Homo sapiens: one gene and its partners. The protein of the gene in region 1 purifies or fractionates together with the protein of each later gene. This does not show direct contact. Each region holds a gene or a part of one and is shown in the gene's direction. Other genes may lie near its edges.

Region 1 (7,464 bases):
TGAGATTTTGAGAGTATTCATGAATAAACTTAAAGAACTTAGAAATGGACTTGGTACATAATAAACATTTGATATTCCTTCCACACCTTAAATGCGACACTTAAATCATCTCCCCTTTTCTTCATGGTTTTTCTTCTTGTTTTCTTCTGGGGTTTTTGCATGTTTCTGTATAAGTACTTTTTTTTCCTTGGCATTCACACGTCGTCAAATGAAGATGAAGAACAGATACAAGTAGAGCCCTTGCGTGTACATAAAATGTTTTTGTTGTATTTATTAAAAGGTAATTAATTGTAAGACATTATACTAATCCGTTTGATTCTATGGTGAAATAAATTATTGGAAGAGAGAAATGTGGGTCAGGGAACTCAAAAGGGGATTATCATCAAACTTGAACACACTCTATCACATCATGGCAAAATCTGCTATGTGGCCTCTTGCCATGGGATCTAGCCTGCCTCTAACTGACTTGGTAATTTGGCCTTAGTCTTCTTACGTAAGAAACTGGGAAACTGACCTAGACAATCTGTGGAGTCCTGTCCTATTCTAACTTTTTGGTCCTAAATAAAACTATAAGTTAAAACTACTTACTTGTCATATTTCACCTATAGCTTTTTAATCATCTTCAAGCATTTAAAATTTCAGCATATACCTCATTCAGAGGTACTTTTTTTTTTAAAAAAAAAGAGATACCCAGGAAGAAAGTGGGGAAAAAGAAAGTTCAATAAAAGATGAAAACATTAGCTGCATTTTTCCACTGTTGAGATCATTTTGTATTCCATTTCTTATTTAACTATATATCTTAAAGATCTTTTCAACAATTTTAAACATTAGATATGAGTTCATAATGTGGATATACCCTAATTTACTTAACTGTTTTACCTCTGTTGTACATGTAAACTATTTTTTAAAATTGTAATAAACATTGTTCTAGATGTCATAGTGGATCAGAAATATTAATAAAATCTGATTTAGAAGAGGATTCTTGGATTGCATTCTTTATCTTTCAGTGGGTTAAAAATAGTTTCACCCTCTTCAATTCCAGGGTTGCAAATGAGAAATCTGATGCCTGTCAGATTCTCTTTTTCAAGGAAACATAAAAATTATATATGAAAATGTATATGATTTTAAATTTATACTTGTTGAAACTGGTCTCTAAGATATGTACATATTTGTGCTTCTTTTCAAAAAAAATTTCTCGGAACTAACTCACCATTTTAAATATGAAAATTCAAATTTTATTACAGCTCAGAATTTTAAAACATTATTTCTTTGACGTTTGCTTTTTCACTTTGTGTTTCTCTGGAAACTATTAGCCTGCACATTATTCCCATTCTTTGGGTTTTTATATTTTTATTCGTGGTTTCTATTTCTTTGTGTTTTTTTTCCTCTGTTATATGAAAAATACTCCTTATTTGATCTAACAATTTTTTTTTTCTTTTTTTGAGACAGAGTCTCACTCTGGAGTGCAGTGGCATGATCTTACCTCACTGTAACCTCTACCTCCTGATTCTCCTGCCTCAGCTACCCGAATAGCTGAGAGCTGAGACTACTGGTGCACACCACCACGCCCAGTTAATTTTTTGTATTTTTAGTACAGATGAAGTTTCACCATGTTGGCTAGGCTGCTCTTGAACTCTTAGCCTCAAGTGATACCCACCTCGGCCTCCCAAAGTGCTGGGATTACAGGCGTGATCCACCGCGCCTGGCCTGATCTAACAATCTAAGTTTTTTTTTTTTAATGTGACTATTTTATAATTTTTTTCTGTAAATTTTAAAACCTCAAACCACATTTATTTTAATTTCCAGGAACTCTTTTAGTTCCTCTGATGTTGTATTCTTAAGGTTTCTCATTCCATACATATTTGTATATACATCTTTTTTTCCTTCAAATCCTTTCTTTTAACTACCACAATTTCTTAAATGGCTTGCCATCTTTCTTTGCCTTTCCATGTCAATTGAGTTTGGTTTCCTGAGCATCAGCATACTTCAAGGTAGCAGCTCTGGAAGGTACACTTGCAGGCAAGCTTGCTCGACCAATCTGTTGAACTGTATGAGAAGTCTTTCTGTTCTCAAAAGTAAGCTGAAAGAGACTATCCTGACCAACACTGCAACTTCCTATGGGCCTCAGTGGCAACAGCCAGCCTCTTCCTGATCTGTGTCAAAAAGTGGGCGGGAGAAGCCCCTTCTTCTATCACAGCTACCAGCCCATCAAGGATCTGTATTCAGTCTCATCTGCAAAGACAATCATTTTTCTATTCCAAGCAGGCTGGATACCATTCTTCAGCTCTGCAAACACTGACTTCCATCTGTATCTTCTTCCTTCAAGACTCAAAGGGCTTGTATGCCTGGGATTTTCTCTAGGTTCCAACCATTGTCCCAGTTATTTAGAAATTGTGCTTCCCAGTGGAATGTTTTGATCAGGCTACAAGAATGACAGGACCTAGTGAACAAGTTCTTGAACACCCTGGATTAAATGTTTGAATTTTAACCTAAGGGCAACAGGATGCTACTGAGTGAGTGAACATGATGAAATCTGTAGTTTAAGAAGAAATATTCCAGCTTCAGTCTGGCAAACATCTCTGAAGGCAGGGAGGCTGAATATAATCAAGACTATAAAAGTCTAGATTAGGACAGAAATAGATGATAATTTAAAATGCGTTTGGGTGGTGTTCAGGTGGACAGATTAGGTGAACTTGGTGATAGATTGGCCAGCGAGGATGAGAAAAAAGGTGGAACTGATCAGCCTTCTTTAGAACATGGTGGATGGTTGGGCCTTCACCAACGTGTAAAACACAGTAAAGAGCTTAGCTTATGTTTATTTTGGGGGTGATGTTTCCTCCCACTCTCGTATTCCCTTGCAGCACTGCATTTACAGGAAAAAATTCCTGGAAGAGAACTGACTAAATTAAGTACATGTGTATTTGAATTTTCGTACATATAACCACACCGTTTCCCTTAAGAGTTCATTTGGTTTTGTATTTGGTTGGTTTGATACATGAAAAGTGATGTCTCACTGTCAATTTTATTTCTATATTTATATTTATTTGTTTTGTATGAAGTGTCTATTAATATCCTTCCTCAGTTATCTCTTGGTTGTTTTTCCTATTGATTTTTTTAAGCTCAGTATAATAATGAGATTAGGACTTTGCATTGCAAATATTTTTGCCAGTTAAATGTCTGCCAACTGGAAGTATTAATTCTTATTTAGTCAAGTTGGTCAATATTTTGTTTTATGGTTTCTGAGTTTTTTATAATGCTTAGAAAAGGCTTCCCTATTCCACAATTATTTGAATGTTATCCTCTTATTTTTTAATCTAATATTTTCATAGTTGTATCTTAAATATGTAATTCATATAGAACTGATTTTGATGTAAAAAGATAAGGCTCCACAGATGGCTATTTACGGCCTCAACACTTTTCACTGAGTAACTCATCATTTCCCCTACTACTTTACATTGATATTTCTTTAAACCATAAATTAAATTGCTGTACATACTCATGTCTACTTTTGGGTTACCTTTTCTCTTTCACTAAGCCTATCTATTCCAATGTTAATCTAAACTGTTTTAATTATTGTGATATTATATGTAATATCCCATTCATTATTCCCATTCATTACTCTTGTTTTAAATAGATATTCTTACATATTTATTTTCCATATAAACTTTAGAATCAGATTGGTTTGAAAAAAATCATGTTATTTTAAAAATTGGGATCAATTTTATTTCCAAATGTATATAATAATTTGGGGAATCTTGTTGTCTTTATCCTACTAAATTTTCTTAGTGAAAAAAGTATCTCTTTACTTATTCGTATCATTTTTTTTCCTTCATGCATAACATTGAGAACTTTCTGATTTTTGTTTGCAGGAAAGAAAACTATTGGTTTGCTAAACAAGAGCTTTATAGTTGATTAACTTTGATTTTCCATGTATACACGTATTTCATTTGCTAATGACAATTTAGCTTTCATTTTTCATAAATCTTTTTCTTTCTCTTGTTTAATTGCATAGGCCAGTAACTCCAAAACGTCAAAATCATAACGACAGTGTGCACTGTTGTGTTTTTTTTTTCTGAATTTACAGGAAAAAATAATAAACATTTTATCAGCTTTCAGCAGAGATGCCATACACTTTCTGTACTTCCCAATCCTGAGTTTTCTTCACTGTCACTCTTTGTCGAATACCTTCAACCCTGAAAATTCCTTCCCTTTGTTTAAAGATAAAAAGCAAAGTTGTTCATCCATTGCTTAGAAAGGAAAAATTGTAGTGGAGGCAAGGTTAAAAAGGAGCAGGCTGAACTCCATAGCAATCGCCAAAGCAAGGGGTTAGGAAAAGTTTCTTGGTCCCCTAGTCACTCTTTAGAAGGAAGAACCCGGGCTTGGGGAGGAGTCGGGGCCACCCCCGCCCCCTGCCCGCAGTCGTTGCCACCCGCGGAGATGAAATGTGAGCCTGGGTGGCCAAGGACGCCGGAGTGGCCGCCTTCCCCGCGCCTGAGCGCAGTGGGGCGAGACAAAGAGACCTGGGCCCCCAGCGCAGCCCGTCTCGGGCCACGGGCGCCCCAGCTCCGCGGAGTCCCGCAGTCGCTGGCCCGGGACGCGCCCGGCCCGGGCTCCCTTGGAAGGCTCCCTAGGCAATGGCCGGGTCTCTGCTCCACCCGGCTCTCAGGAGCGCTGCTCTCTCCATCTGATCGCCCTCCATCCTCCCCATTCCCTCCGGTTCCGGGCTCTCCCTTCGCTCCAAGCCTCAGGCCACCGGCTTGGATGGACGCTCCGAGGCTACCCGTGCGTCCAGGGGTCTTGCTTCCGAAGTTGGTCCTGCTCTTTGTCTACGCAGGTCAGTGACGGAGGGCGGCGGAGAGGGTCAGAGGCTCGGGGCTGCCCTTGGGTCACGGTCCGGGCTAACGTGGGTTGAGCTGGACGGACCGGGACCTTTGCAGAAGGACCTTTGCAGACGCTTCTGCCTTTTCCGCGAGGCGACGGCAGAAACCCGCGCACTTCCAGCCGCACGCGGTTTTGTTTTGTTCCTTTTCCTTTAACTTTTACCTTTTGCATTTCTTTTCTTTCCCTTTCCACCTTGGAAATAGCAGTCTCGTGTTTAGGGGATTTGACTCTCTGGATAGAGTAAACTATATCCAAATAAACTTATCTGGATAGGCTAGGCAGTGGCCTCTCCATCTTCTGCTTTCTAAATAGTCCTGGTTTTCCCTCTTGTGAATAAAAAAAACTTAGAGCTTTGTTTTCGTTCTTTGGGAGATTCACAAGTGTGGTAGACTGAGCTATTGGACTGAAGTCAAACACAAGGTTTTTGAGAAGCATGAATTCACCCAGGGTCTAATCTGTACAGGTTCGTTGATTTAGATAGACACTTGTTTATAAGAGAAGGGCATCTGGTTTCCCTTCTAATTATTCGTAGTAAGAACTGCTAATAATTAACGAAGCAAAGTGGGTTTTCTTGTTTGTGATTAATATGGAGCCCCAAATGGCCTTTCATTGGTTATTCAGGTATAAAGTGTCTTACACACGTGGTCTTTGCATCAGTTCATATTCACAAAACAATGCAAGCTAAAAGCAAAGTTCTTTGTAAAATGTTTTTGTGTCTCTAACGTCCTATGACAAAAATCGCAGGCTCACCCCTGAGCCTCCAATACGAAATGTATATATAGCACTGAAATTTACCTTTGATACTCAAAAAGATATTGCAACTGAAATGATGTTCTTCAGTGTTGCACCTGAGTATTAAAAGAATTGAATTTCTCATTCAACCTTGCTAGAAAAGAGTCACCATAACTTCTGTAGACATTTTTAGCCTGTTTATTGAAATGCAAATTAGTGGCTGTCTAGGAGTTACCATTTTAAAGATGTTTTATGGCAGGAAAAATGCTGACCTTCTAATATGAAAATTCATAAAAGTAGGATAAGTTCTTCGTATTTAATGAAGAGAATTACATTTAATCTGTTTACAACATTTATTTCTTTTATTAAATTTGTATAAGGTTTTCAGAATTTGAGGGATTAACAGAGTCAACTGCATTAATATTCATTTTCTATTGAAAAAATCTCTTTATTAGTTCTTTCGAAGTAATTATGCTTTTCACTTCCTCTGCTCGACAATATTTAATACTTTCACTCACACTTATTCAACCACTCCATTGAACCACAATTTTGTTTGTTTGTTTGTTTGTTTATTATATTCCCTGTGGTAAACTGAAAGCTTCTGCTTTACACATCTGCCCCCTCCTCCTGTTTCCCCAGTGCTAGGTGCCCAGCTCCTCAGGGCTCAGGAAATCAGCGAAGCTGGCCAGCAACAAGGGTGGTTAGTTTAGAAAGTTTTCAGTCCATTCATTTCTCTTCTTTGGAATCCCTCTATCATAAGCTACAAAGTAGTTGTAAGCCAGTGCTAAGTTGACTTACTATCTTTGCTAAGAAGTGTTTAGCTAATAAGCTCTTTGGTGTCAATTCCTGGACTTGTTATTCAGAGGCCTTTTTATGCTTTTCATATTCATTCAACTATTACTTACTGAGTGAGGTATGTTGAGCCGTAAGAGGTCATGTTCTTATCAGTCTTCTCTGGGAACTACGGTATGATCATAAGTTACTTTAAGGTATAAAAGGTTGTGTCATAGGAGAGGTAAAATCACGTGCTATAGATGTTCAAAGAAGAAAGTCTTACTGCTGGCTTAAAAGAGTAAGCTTCATGAGGACAATGTCTATTTTGTTCAGCAAAAAGATCAATCAGTATTTGCTCAGGAAAACTGAATTGAAGAAGACTTGAAGGAACTAGACCTTTGAAAAATATAGACGCCCTGAACCCAACGAGACGGAGTGGGATATAGTAGGATATCGTGTGATCAAAGTCAAAAATCAAGATCTGTACATGCAACAAAGGATATTTCAGTTTGGTTGGAACTAAGAGGTATGGCTAGAAGTAAGGGTTGAGGTTAGATGCTGGAACACCACAGAAGTCAAAATAGTTCATACTATTAAATGAATTGCCAGCTTTGTGGGACAAAAATCTAAGTAGATGCACTGCTCATAATCTAAATTATTTTCCCCAAAGCAAATGCATTAGATTCACATTTCATTTGGCTAAACAAATAAGAGCAAGGTTTCTATACCTGAAGCATCATGTTGTACTATAGAGTTACTTTTGGAAGGAGACCCAGTGAAGTGTTGATATTATTGTCTGACTCCCACTGCAGGCTACAAAGACAGGATTCGGTCAAGGTTTTACCTTCCGGGCCTCAGCCAGTAACTTCTGTCTCCTCCCTTTCCTTCCTCTCTTATCTTAGCTATAGCTTGCAAGGGCCATTTCTAAGCAAGTGCTTCAAGCCAGATACTGCTTTTCCTGTTCTGCGCATTCCTTAAGGTGGGAGGCAGGGTGAGTTGGGAGTCAGGGGTGAGTTGGGGAACCTTCTTCCAGACCACACCTTTCAGCAAAAAGTCATTGAAGAAAGTTTAAGTTGG
Region 2 (7,113 bases), on another chromosome or scaffold:
GGGGAGGATGGTAGTTGCTAAGGAAGATAGTGAAGGATTGAAAGGTTTTTTGTTTTGTTTTGCATTTGCACATGATCAGTATTTTAAAACTGGAAGAGGCTTGTGATTCATTTATCTGCTGAGTAGGAAAACAGCTTAGTAGAGACAGAAAGAGTAAGGGTACCAGAGAAAAGATTATTAGTGGATCAAGGCCCTTTATTTAAGAGGTAGACTCCAGAGCACCAAGGAATGTATAAGTAATTAATGGTCCAATTGGAAATTTGTTTTTCAACTCTACAACTCAGCTAAAATGAATGTATATCTTAAAGATATCCAGTGAAGATAGACACTTTTATTTTTTGAGGATATTTGTTCCTCAATTAATTCCTGGAAATCATTTCTTTTATAATGCCCTACAATTTAAAAAGAGATGTATCAATATTTTAAACATTATTGGCAAAAGGGTGAGAATATCATCTATAAATTTTGCATCAACAGAATAGCTATTTTCATTTTTCCATTTTATCTGTTACTTTCTTAACCCTATACTGTTTATCCATTCCAGGAAGTTAATACAGATTTCTAAAAGCAAGTTATATAGTATGAGTTTACTCTATTTGGTATGCTATTTAAATGATACTACTTTTTCTTCTTTTTTCCTCCCAATAAGGATCAAGATTCCCTAAAGAAAAGCCAAGGTGTTGGTCCAATTAGAAAAGTTCTCCTCCTTAAGGAAGATCATGAAGGCCTTGGCATTTCAATTACAGTAAGAAGTAGTACTTCCAGTATCATTTTCTACAGTTATCTAGTATAATCATGCTCCTTTGTTGGACATCACTGGGGAACAGAATATTCTGGATATATTTTTTAAATAACTAAAATTTATCCCCATGGGGATAAATGTTTGCTTTTGTGTAAATATTTTTTTAAGAAATAAATATTCCTAGCAACTATTAAGTGTACCTTTAGTAAGCATAGTTTAACATTTTTATTATGATTCACTTAATAGTTCTGTGCCATATACTGTGATGCCTCTAGGAGCCCTTGGGAATAGACGTGGCTGTTTTCTTCTATGTTAAATGGCTTCAGATTGTATTGTTCTCTCTCGGAGTACGTGTATCTTTCTCTTGCCTCATTTATTAGCTGTCAGATTTCACTGGCTCTTGGGTCCAAATGTTATATATTCTTTTTTTTAAATTCGATGCCTTTAGGAGTCATTTTGTTGTCATCTCAGTGCTTTAATGAATAAGGTGGCTTTAATTTTCATTTGGTAATACTTAGGCACTGAGCAAGATCATTTGTTTTTTTAGTATTGCTTAATGTAGAAATGTTTCTTATAATAAAAAGCTCATCTAATCTATATTTCTTGAATACTTACCTTTTTTTTTTTTATGTGCTGCCTTCAAAGAGCATACATTTTAGCAGGACAAATAAGACACACACACACACCCCTACACACACGCAACAATGATATAAGCTAGAGAGTGATAGGTACCAAATACTGCATTTTTTCAATTCTACATTGCATATATTTTCATATTTTAACTTCTCTGAAATTGAAATTTATCTTATAATCTTAAAATTATTTTTGTGGCACCTAAAATAATTGGTCTTGTCATTCGTAGTGATTTAGACTTGATAAAATGTAATGGTGCTATGGAGTACTAACACATAAGTTTTTTTTAATTTAAGAATTTAGCCAATTTCTGTTCAATACTCTGATAATTTTTACCATTACTTAAGTAGCAAATAAAATTTTACCCAGCATTTATAGAGACAGCATAGGTGTTTAATGAAATATATTTTTAAGAAAATATTTTATCTCTAGATTAATCGGTAACTGTACCTTACAAAGAGTACTTTAATTTACTGCCCTTTGTTGTTGTTAGGGTGGGAAAGAACATGGTGTTCCAATCCTCATCTCTGAGATCCATCCGGGGCAACCTGCTGATAGATGCGGAGGGCTGCACGTTGGGGATGCTATTTTGGCAGTCAACGGAGTTAACCTAAGGGACACAAAGCATAAAGAAGCTGTAACTATTCTTTCTCAGCAGGTAAATTCCCTTCATGTAATTAGAACTGGATCTATCAATTGGTTATGAATCTATTGAACACTGTATACTTCCCTACGAAGTTTCTAAAGTAGTAAAGTGTTTACACATAGTTCTTGTTTCCTTTGATTTAATGCTTTTATAGCTGACATTCAGTCAGATTTACTGAAAATGGACCATTCCATTTTGTTTACTTCATAACTTTGAGCAAGTTACTTAAGTCCTCTGTCCCTCAGTGTCCTCACCTGTGTGGGAGGGATTGAAAGAAAGCTGTGAGGATTAAGTATGTTAATACATATAAAGTACTCAGAACAGGACCTGAGACTGAAAAAACAACATCCTTAATGCCTAGAACACTATATATAAGGTATTACAGAAAAGACAGTGCTAGAAGTAGATTGATTTTAGTCATGGAATATTAAAATTGAAATCACACATAGAAACTATCTAGCCCAACTCTCTTAAAATGAGTAAACTAAAGTTCTTAGCGATGAAAGGATTTACTCAAAGTTGCCAAGCAAATAAATTATAGAATTGAGATTCATACTCAGGAGTCATATTTGTCATACAGTTGTACTTAAAATGTTGTTTTATTTTATTTCTTTCAAGAATAGAGTTGAGGGAATTAGAGGCATTGGTAGTACATTGAGATGTTTCTTGGATTATCAGTGTGGTATGCCTCTGTAGAATTGCATCTCAGAGTTGAAAGTGAATATTGTTCATTGGTTCAATTCTATATGATGCATAAATCTTTGCAACATCACTACTTCAATAATTACATTACAGGGAAGACTTGCTGATATCAACCAGTCCATTCCATTGTAATACAGTACTGATTTTTAGAAAGCTTTTTCTCATATTAAGCCTGAAATCTGTGTCTCCATGACAGCTACTCACAGATCTAATTCTGTCATCTAAAACTTTGCTGAAGACCACTGCATCATCTGTCTCTTTCTGCAAAATGGTATTTTTAAAGCATTAGCTGACAAGAGAGATCTAAGAATGCTACGCTATTCTCTTAAGTTAGTGTTTTATCAATCCATCTTGACTGTCATCCAGTAGCAAAAGAGTGGGATAACTGGTGAAGGAGCTATCAATGGGCAGCCATAAGTTTTAAGGAAATGCTAACTAAGCACATATTAAAATTCTGAGGTATAACCTTAAACTGCTGGGAAAGAAGAGCACCAAAGAGACTAACTTAGTGAGTAGCAGTCAAAAATGCCGTGTTTTCTTTTGAGCAAAGGCAAGCCATAGTTTTCAGAATTGCCAACACCACACTTATATGTAGTGGTTGGAGTCTCTTATTAAATGACAATTATAGCTTGGAAATTTTTCTTTTAACATAAAACGATCTGTAACATTTTTTTCTTTTTTGGAGCCAGGATCTCACTTTGTCACCCAGGCTGGAGTGCAGTGGCACAATTACGGACCACTGCAGCCTCAACCTCCCAGGCTCAAACAGATCCTCCGACCTCAGCCCCCTGAGTAGCTAAGACTACAGATGCCTGCCACCATGGCCAGCTAATTTTTTTTTTTTTTTTTTTTTTTGTAGAGATGGGTTTTGCCATGTTGCCCAGGCTGGTCTAGAATTCCTGAGCTCAAGCGATCCACCTGCCTCAGCCTCCCAAAGTGCTGGGATTACAGGTGTAAGCCACTGTGCCTGGCATGATCTGTAACTTTTTACTTGAATGTTTCATTGTTAAAGAATGACAGTACAAATATTACACAGTTAGTCTAGCATAATATAAAGATTAAGGACTTCAGAGTCAAACTTTTGTTTTTCTTTATTCTTGTTCATTATGTAGGGAAAGTTATCTGCTTTCTGCAGGACTCACTCAGCTTTCTCGTTCATGTAAAAGAGACTATAATAGGATTATTCTGGGGATTGAAGGCTATAATTTATAGTAAATATATAAATATAGTAATTACTATTAGTACGAGACAGAATACCTTGATTAACACTATGTCTGTGTCTGGTACTCAGTGTAAGTTCTTACTCAAGACCTATTGAATAAGAAACAAAAAATCATTTTGTAGGAGTTTCTTGAATTAGTTAAGAAAAGATTTATATGATGTCCTTATGGCAGTGTACAAAAATCATTTTCTAGGGGTTTCTTGAATTAGTTAAGGAAAGGTTTGTATGATATCCTTATTTAATATCTGACTATTTAGATGTATTTGCTGAATTGCTGTGTGCAGTACAAAGTAGCAAATAACTTTAAAACTGAATACTTGTTCCAAAATTCTATAAATTTAATAATTAAGCATCCTCTTAAATTTTAGATCTATTAGCAAAAAGACTATGGTCAGTAGAAAGAGCTACTATAATGTTTAAAGGAACTGTAGAGAGGATTCACGAGGCTGATCAGACATGATGGCCTCACTACCTCTTTAGATTCTAGAATTTTATTATTTATTTTCTGGAAATCAGCTATCTCTTAGATCTCTCTACCCCTAAGCCTTCCCACAAAGAATTTGGAAATCCTTTTTAAATTACAATTACAATAACTTGACTTTCTCATTTTCATTTCCTGTTTTAGAGAGGAGAGATTGAATTTGAAGTAGTTTATGTGGCTCCTGAAGTGGATTCTGATGATGAAAACGTAGAGTATGAAGATGAGAGTGGACATCGTTACCGTTTGTACCTTGATGAGTTAGAAGGAGGTGGTAACCCTGGTGCTAGTTGCAAAGACACAAGTGGGGAAATCAAAGTATTACAAGGTAAAAATCACTCTAAAAATTATTATTAACATATTCATTATTATTAAATGTTTAAAATGTGAAGGCCTCAGAATTTCTTCAGTAAAACTGTTTTGTGAGGAAATCAAAGGAATGAAGAGCTTTCCCTTGTTTATTGTTTTATTGTATACTATGCTAACAGTTTATTTACCATATATGTTCTTCTATATTCATCTTGGACTGTTAAGACAAGTACATTACCAGTTACTCTACTGCAAGTGATCCTTGAAAAATAAATAAAATTTTTTCTAGACTCTGAAACAAAGACCAATATACTATTTTGAGTAGATCTATCTTGTAGACTACATTGTCTGTCTGTCTTGATGCAAATTCATCTCTCACAATGAATTTTAAGCTAATTATGAATAAGTATGAAGTATACTGTCACCTTATGATTGCTATTAGAATCAACTTATATTATCTTGGGGATGTTTGGTTTAGTTCCTTTGCTATCATTTAGACATATTTTAAGGAAAAACTCTAGCACTTCCTTTTACATAGAGCAGTGGTCCTCAAATTGTGATCTGTGGATCTCTGAGGGTCTCTGAGATATTTTAGCAGAGTTCATGAGGTCAAAGCTTTTCATAATAATACTAAGACATCATTTGTCTTTTTTTGCTATGTTGATATTTGCACTGATGGTATCTGGTTGATGCAAAAGCAATTGGGGTAAAACTGCTGGTGCCTTAGCACTAATCAAGGCAGTGTTGCTAATACTAGTAACTGTACTAGTAATCATTGTTTTCTTCCTTGCCATCCATTCATAGTAAAAGAAGAAGATACCAATTTTGCTTAAAAATATCTTTGATGAAATGGCAGTAACAGTTAATTTTTAAATATTGACCTTTGAGTACCTGTCTTTTTAATATTCTTTGTGATGAGATGGGAAGTATGCATAAAGCACTTACTCTGCACACTGAACAAAGATGCTGGTTTCAAGGGAAAGTACATAAGTGACTGAACTAGCCATTTTTCTTCATGGAAGACAATTTTTACTTGAATGAATGACTAACAAAGTATGGATTTTCGGACTATTTGGAAGCCATTTTCTTAAAAATGAACAAAGTCCATCACTTCAGGAAAGACAACTGATAATATTTATTGCCAGTGATAAAATGTGAGCTCTCAAGTGAAAGTTAGAACTTTGTAAAACATACGTTGATCACCATGAGCTTGACAGCTTCCTAACACTTAAGCTTTTCTGATGAGATTGATGATGATATTAATGAATGTGATTTTTTGATACAGTAAAGTGAAATGTGTCAACTTTTGGAATTGCTACATAACTTCATGGTCCAATATTTTTCAAATCACCAGTAAATGAAGTTATAAAATTTTGCATGGGAAAAGATCCATTCAAAATGCAAGATAGGCAAATGGATTTTAATATAACAGAGTGTGAAAAGTTCACTGATAAGGTTTCAAATTCCACATTGTCAAATTTTTGTATAATATCAGAGAACAATACTGACAGTTATCTGAAAAGGCTGTTAAAATACTCTTCCATTTAGCAACTACATATCTGTGTGAGGCTGAACTTTCTTCATATACTTGTAATAGATTGAATGGAAGCAGATATATGAAAATACAGCTATCATCTACAAAGCCATTGAAGAGATTTGTAAAATTGTAAAATAATGCTACTCTTCTAACTAGAATTTTTTTGTTTGGAACATAGAGTTATTTGTCATTAGACAAATGTTATTTATATTAACCTTCTGGATTTATTGTCATTTTTAACAAAGAAATGAATTTTTTTTTAGATTTTTCAATTTTACCTACTAATATGGGAAACATCAGTAGCTATAATCCACATAAACAGAAGCTTCTTGGAGTCCTCAATGCTTAGTATAAAGGCCTCCTGAGACCAAAATGTTGAACTCCTGGCATGGAGTTTTATGGTGAACTGATAAACTGTTGCACTTTTGATAAACTTGTGTGTTGTAAACTGTCTGCACAAAGATAGCAGTAGCAGTTACTGTTTTCACTGTGCATCTTGAGCAAAACTATTGTGGCAGTATGTCAAAACCTTAATTGTTGGGCTGCTCTCCATATGGTTTCATTGTATTTCACACTTGCTGTTTTCTGTCGGGATTAGAAAGCCTGTCTCTTCCTTTTTTTTGTAACTGAGGCTAGAAGTCTTCTCTGTCACATATGCAAATTGCAGACACTTAAAATGTGACTCAACTAAAAATTTGTGTGTATATATCTTTTAACTGACTCACTTAAAAAAATGTATCTATTGGTTATTGTTTCACACGTCTATACTTTATAGATATATATATCACCTAAATAGGTGATATAGTCAACACTTATTTATTTATAAGCCTATTATTTATTTTAT
Region 3 (7,113 bases), on another chromosome or scaffold:
GGCTACATGTGACTAGTGGCTGCCATATTGAACAGTGCAGGTGCAGAGCATTTCCATCATCACGGAAAGTGCCATTAGACGGTACTGGTCTAGGGTATTTAAACACTAGTGTCAAGAAGTGACATTTCTTTCCCCTCCCCCCATCCTGGCAGGGAAACATGCACCTAAGGTTCATTCAGGTGCAGAGTTTTGGGCCAAGACCCAGAACATCCTGATCAGTGAGTCTAAGGAAGGAAGTGAAAATGAGTACATTTTAAAAAGCTACCCAGGGGATTTTCCCTGGGTAAGACACAACCAAGTCTTACCGCTGGTGACTGGTAAACAGAGGTTAGGATCTTAGAAAATTACATGTACCACAGGGCTGCAGCTGAGAGCTCCAAATTCCACTGCTTATGGGGTGAAAAGCGTTTCTTTCCAAAAGCTACATTAACTAATGATCCACCCATACGTAAAAAATAATAAAATGTGCATAAATGTGAAACCCTCTGATTTTCCTTCCCTTGTTAAACATTGGAAAAGGAAGTCAGTCGTATAATTTCAAAGCTCTGCTCATGTCTTTATTAAGTTAACATTCTCAGCACAAAATATGCTAATGTATTTTTTTTTAAGTAGATAAACTGCCAGGCACATTTTCACGTTTTCTAACTTAGCCTATAATAAGAGTGAAAAGCTCCAACAACCAAACACCTCTTTTCAGCCTTCTCAAAGACATGATAAATATCATTTCTGTGTGCTTTTATTTGTTCATTCATTCTCTCACTCAACAGAAATTTTTGGAGCACATAAAATGTACCAGACAATATTCTAGATACTTGATATACGTATAAAAATCCTCATGGAGCTAACATTCTAGTGGTTTTATGTACCTGCATATCAATGCCACTCATGCATGGGAGTTGGGGATAGTAAGAAAACCAAAGCAATAAGTAAGATGTATATTCTTTTGGAAGGTGGTAAATGCTAAGGACAAAAATAAAGCAGGAAAAAGGGATTGGGAATGTTGGAGGTACTGCAATTTTTAGTAAGGTGGTTAGGGAAGGTCTTGCTGCGAAGGTAATGGCTGTTGATGTCTCTGCATAACTGAAATGTGTTTCCCTTCAGGGCCCTGGAATGCCCTAGCAGCACCTGCTACAAGAGTGTAGGCCAGTCACCCTCCTCCCCCTAAAGTAAACTTTGGGGGTTATCTTACCTCACCTCAATTTCCATCTGATAATTGTCTTGGCAGCTGTCTCCCCAAAGCTCTTGGTGCAAGTGACACCACCCTCCCAACGCCTTGGCAGATGACTTTGCGTGGCGAATCCTTGTAAGTCTTGCCTTTCTTTAGCCACTATGACAGGGCTGTAGTTTGTCAACCTTCCAATAAGCTTTGGGACTGCGCTAGAGAGCAGGTTAGCGAAAGGACCTCTGATTGCAGGCAATTTAAAAGAGCCTTCTTTGCAAGAGCCAGAAACTTTTAAAATATGCAATTAAAAATTGTATGCATGCCCAGAGACCTTTTAAACTCTTTTAGATATAACTAACCAAAAATAACTTTCTTTCCTAGGTGCCAGGCTCCTAGTACAGGGGTGTAGGGGACTAATGTCTCCCTCTTTCTCTCTCTCTTTTTGTTTTGGATAACATTTTTGATAGAAAAGAAACAGGGCAGATGGAGAAGCTGTGTGTGGCAAGGACAGGGTATAAGAAGTAAGTAAAGTTAGAAGAGATGAAAGAAGCTGCTCATGAAATTAGGTCTACTACTTGGGATAATCAGAGAAGTTCCAGTAAGTTTCTCAATTACAGAGAAGTGCCTAGTAAAACCCAAAAGAAAACGTTTTGGTTTATGTTCAAAATGTTATTTGTGAATGTATCAAGAAAACTCAATAAAACCTTAGGTAGCATGTTTGGAAATAATTTAGCGATACCTCTATCTGTAAATTTATTTTATTTTTATTATTTTTTTGAGACAGAGTTTTGCTCTTGTTGCCCAGGCTGGAGTGCAATGGCGCAATCTCAGCTCACTGCAACCTCTACCTCCTGGATTCAAGTGATTGTCCTGCCTCAGCCTCCCAAGTAGCTGGGATTACAGGCATCCACCACCTCATCTGGCTAATTTTTGTATTTTTTTTTTTTAGTAGAGACAGGATTTCACTATGTTGGCCAGGTTGGTTTTGAACTCCTGACCTCAGTGCTCCACCTGACTCAGCCTCCCAAAGTGCTAGGATTACAGGCATGAGCCACCACACCCCCAGCCTAATTTATTTTAAATAAGACAGCTGAATTTGGAGCTGTGTGGCTACTGTTAGTAACTACTTAGTTTAGGGATTTTGTGTGTGTGTGTTGTGGGGGGGGTTTCTTTGTTTGTTTTTTTGGTTTGTGTTTTTTAAACAAATATCCTAAACTTGTTTTAAACAGTAATTCTTAGCCCTAGGCATGCGTTGGCTATATCACAAATTTAATAAAAGATCAGATAAATAGGAAAAAATCAGTTGAATTTAGAATTCAATTCAAAGTAATGACCCTTAATTTTGAAAATAGTCATTCTACATTTTTGTCAAATTATTATTTGTGACTATAATATGTTTTCTGGTATTATCTGTGCATTTTCAGCCTGGATTTTCCGTTTGATTAGTTCTGTTGGTTTTTCAAGTGGAAGCCAGGCCCAAAGCAGCACATCAGAAGCCATATAGCAAAATAAAATTAAAACAAAACAAAAGACATAAAACAGACCAGTTCCATTTTCTGTGAAGGGGTTTGTGGCAGCTCAATTCCTGTCAAAGTGCATGAATGGAAACCAAGAAGTGTGTCACCTGACAGGGACTAGTTTCATCCCTCTCTTGTAGTTTCTTTTGGACCCTGGAGTTGACATACTCAATGCTTTACCTCCCTCCATCAACACTGGGGCCTAGGAACATCCTTATTCCTCAAATTAAGAGAGGACTTTCTTAAGATGCTATATGCCCAAAGGCTCTAGGGCATAAGCGTGAAGAATTATCTATATGTTGTCTCAAATCTTGTTTAATTCTCCTTTTCACCAGTGGTGACATTCCTTATGCGTTTCTTATTTTAATCCAGGCAAACCCTTTTTTACACGAAACCCTTCTGAGTTGAAAGGCAAGTTCATTCACACAAAGCTGCGGAAAAGCAGTCGTGGCTTTGGCTTCACGGTGGTTGGAGGGGATGAACCTGATGAGTTTCTCCAGATCAAGAGCTTGGTCCTAGATGGTCCTGCTGCATTGGATGGCAAGATGGAAACAGGTAGCGTCAACATGGCCTTAGTGTGTTCTGTGTGGTGAGACTCCAATCCAGGAGATAAACATGTGCAATCATGATGTTGTTTGTTTGAGCAAGACCAAGCAACGTCATGATTGCACATGTTTACAGCTTTAAACACCTTGAGAATGAGCCAGGTCTCCACATTACATAAATTCATCCCTTGGGACAGATTAAAACCTGTGAAGTCATTTTAAGTTTGGGAAACTGTTTGAGTACAGTAAAGCAATGAGTTACTAAAACTGTAGATCCCCATTTAAATAAATGAATTCTAAACTTGGATTTCTGCAGTGAGATTTTTTTTTAGGAGAAAGCTCCAATGTTCTGTGAGTGATTATTACATTCTCATTAGCAGGGAAGACACTAGGTGCTGAAAGAACACTTTATTAGCTGTTAAAATCAGTAATAGAAGCACTTTATACCCTATAGTATCACACCCACATGCAGTTTCAGTTCAGCTTTATGTTAGTGGGAGATATTATAATACTGATGACAATTTTCTGGGTGCTGTTTTCTTAACCCCCACACTCTTGCCTTCTACAGGGGATGTGATTGTAAGTGTGAATGACACCTGTGTTTTGGGACACACACATGCTCAAGTTGTGAAGATCTTCCAGTCCATCCCCATTGGTGCCAGCGTGGACCTTGAACTCTGCCGAGGTTATCCATTGCCTTTTGATCCAGATGACCCCAATACAAGTTTAGTGACCTCGGTAGCCATTTTGGATAAAGAACCAATTATTGTGAATGGGCAAGAGACCTATGATTCACCAGCTAGCCACAGTAGTAAAACAGGCAAAGTCAATGGCATGAAGGATGCCAGGCCAAGCAGCCCAGCGGACGTGGCTTCAAATAGTTCTCATGGTTATCCTAATGACACTGTTTCTTTGGCTTCCTCCATAGCCACTCAGCCAGAACTCATAACTGTTCATATTGTCAAAGGGCCAATGGGCTTTGGTTTTACTATCGCAGACAGTCCTGGTGGGGGTGGCCAAAGAGTGAAACAGATTGTTGACAGCCCAAGGTGCCGAGGCCTGAAAGAAGGGGATCTCATAGTGGAAGTTAATAAGAAGAACGTGCAGGCCCTAACTCACAACCAAGTGGTGGATATGCTGGTTGAGTGTCCTAAGGGAAGTGAGGTCACATTGTTGGTGCAACGAGGAGGTAAGTAGGGTTGTTTTGTTCTTTGAATTTTTTTTTTATCCCAAATTCATTGCTTAACTTACTCATCTTCAGATGACCACTGGGGGCTTTTTAAATTTATTTAAATGTTTCAAAATGCCTACTGATTTCTCCAAATACTAACCTCTTTAGCATAAAAATTGTGGTTTATACATTATGACAGACATATGCAGTTAGAATGATACCTTAAAACAGAAATCAGATTTTGCCTTTTTAAAATGTTAAGATTTAAAAACCTAAGTTGGGTGTGGTGGTACCCACCTGTAGTCCTGGCTGCTTGAGAGGCTGAGGCAGGAAGATCACTTGAGCCCAGGCATTTGAGTCCAGACTGGGCAACATATTGAGACCCCATTCTCTAAAAAGTTTTTTTATATATATATAAAAAATAATAACCTTTATCCTTTAAATCTCCTGAACTTGGCCTGCATAGCCTGCAAAATGTGGCTATGGTCACTCCAAACTTGTCTCATGTTCCTCTCCTCCATCTGATGGTGCTTTAGCCACACTGGCTGCTTTTATGGAGCTCCTTTAATGCTTCAAGCCTTTTCTTGCCTCAGGCCCTTTGTATTTACTGTCCGTTCTGCCTGGAATGGTCCTTTCCCAGCTCTTCCCAGCTGGCTCAGTCCCATTCAGGTCTCCTTATGAGAGAGGGCTTCTCCCATCACTTTATCTAAAGTAGCTCCCAACACTTCCATATAATCTTTATCACAGTTTTTCATAACCTTGATCATCATCACCTTTTTAGCACAAGACGTTATTTCATGCTTTTATTTATTTTTCATTATTTGTCTTTCATTAGAATATAAAGCTCCATAAAGCCAGGGCCCATGTGTGCATGTGGACAGCTGTTATCCCCAGCATTTAACACAACACCTGACTCCTTTTAGGTATTTATGAATGAATAGGTATTAAGTGAATAGGTATGTGATTATTTCTATTTGGCAGAAACAAGAGGTCTGCTAATCATATTAAACACTTCCCTCCACATGCTCGCGTTTAGTAGTTTAGGATCTCAGAGATCTGGGTTATTCTAAATCTCGAGGCATTAAGCTTCCTCCTTTCTCCTTGAGTCCGTATCCCACCCTCTGCCTCACCAGAAAACACAGGACGTCACACTGAGCAATACTTTCCACCATATTGAAGTGTCTTGCTCCTGGAATATATACTTATATGTGATTAGTCGTGACTGATAGTTTTACACAGTGGGCCTGAGAATGGCTGTTTCCCTGATCCTTGCTACCATGATTTGTTTCATGAACAACATATTCAGGCCTTTTGAAAAGAGATCAAGAACCAGACTTTGACTTCCTTTTGGTTTGTTGCAACAGGAGAGCTCATTTGTGTCACAGCAGCCAGATTCTCATGTTTTCATGAACCTGTGTGTTCTGCGATCAGAATGGCTGGGGTCATTTGAAGGAAACCCAAAATACAGAGTAGCTGTCTATGTGAATTGAAATGCTCAATGAGCCTGGCTTAGGCAGTTATAAAAGGCATTGTGCAAATTTTATTTTTTTTAAAATGTCATTTCCACCAACTAATTTTCAAGTCTCTTCTTGTACCTAGATCACTTGACTGCTCAGAGAACTGGTTTTAAACAGTAGCCAAGATGTATGTAGTAGGAAATGACTTGGGTATAAGAACGATTATGACAATAATGATGATGGTGATGATGAAACCTGGCACTTATAGAAGAATCAGTGATACACAAAGCACTTTCATACCTGCACGTGCCTCTCCACTGATATTTGTCACTTCCCTGTGAGGTAGGAAGGTGCCACCCCACAGTAGTTCTGAGCTGTTCACCCTGGCTCTGTGGTTTCCAGTCCAATGTTCTGCCCTACTTAACTGAATAACACTGATTTTTGTATAGTTGCTTAATACTGAGGCTGACAGCCTGGAAACTTTCAAATAATTCTTGGTACATCAGGTGCACCTCTGATTCAGCCACTGCTCATTTGACAGACACAAACCACCTTGTTCTCCTAACTCATCTATCCTCTTTCTCATTTCTGTTATTGATGTGGTTTATTATCCCATTAGATTCACTTCTAAGGAGACCAAACATAAAGTTTCATTATAGCCAACTAACTTACACATGTATTAGAACCATATTGTAATGAATTCGCCTAAGCCAGCAAACAACTGATTATAGAAACGTACTCCTTGATTTTATTTTTTATTTTTATTTTTGAGACAGGGTCTCACTTTGTCACCCAGGCTGGAGTGCAGTGGTGCCATCTCAGCTCACTGCAGCCTCAACCTCCTAGTTTCAAGCGATCTTCCTGCCTTAGCCCCCCAAGTAGCTGAGACTATAGGTGCATGCCACCACTCCCGGCTGATTTTTGTATTTTCAGTAGAAATGATTTCTCCATGTTACCCATGCTGGTCTCGAACTCCCGCGCTCAAGGGATCCACCTGCCTCGGCCTCCCGAAGTGCTAGGATTACAGGCATGAGCCACCACACCTGACTATACTCCTTGATTTTAAATATGTTTGCATTCTCTCTTCTTAATTCCCAATGCCATCTTCTCATTAATGGTGTTACATTTTATAACATTTATATGAAAAATCCGGAATATATTGCCATATTCATCAACATCTACATGGTTTATTTCAGAACATGAGTAATTTAAAATCACTGTGACATCAGCAGTCTTTAAAATACACCATATGTCTTGTGTA

The links.
Region 2: the proteins of CYYR1 (region 1) and GOPC purify together in Homo sapiens (affinity purification with mass spectrometry; 2 studies listed by BioGRID and IntAct, with this or other methods). This does not show direct contact.
Region 3: the proteins of CYYR1 (region 1) and MAGI1 purify together in Homo sapiens (affinity purification with mass spectrometry; 3 studies listed by BioGRID and IntAct, with this or other methods). This does not show direct contact.

Annotation. Positions count from the first base shown.
Region 1 is NC_000021.9:26,570,238-26,577,701, reverse strand, and holds the start of CYYR1 (cysteine and tyrosine-rich protein 1 isoform 1 precursor), read left to right. Parts: upstream 1-4,415; 5' UTR 4,416-4,437; coding exon of another isoform or gene 4,438-4,761; coding exon 4,762-4,834; intron 4,835-7,464.
Region 2 is NC_000006.12:117,564,492-117,571,604, reverse strand, and holds part of GOPC (Golgi-associated PDZ and coiled-coil motif-containing protein), read left to right. Parts: intron 1-649; coding exon 650-745; intron 746-1,746; exon of another isoform or gene 1,747-1,868; coding exon 1,869-2,033; intron 2,034-4,570; coding exon 4,571-4,751; intron 4,752-7,113.
Region 3 is NC_000003.12:65,426,820-65,433,932, reverse strand, and holds part of MAGI1 (membrane-associated guanylate kinase, WW and PDZ domain-containing protein 1), read left to right. Parts: intron 1-3,051; coding exon 3,052-3,234; intron 3,235-3,792; coding exon 3,793-4,413; intron 4,414-7,113. UniProt on the Homo sapiens protein: Plays a role in coupling actin fibers to cell junctions in endothelial cells, via its interaction with AMOTL2 and CDH5. May regulate acid-induced ASIC3 currents by modulating its expression at the cell surface.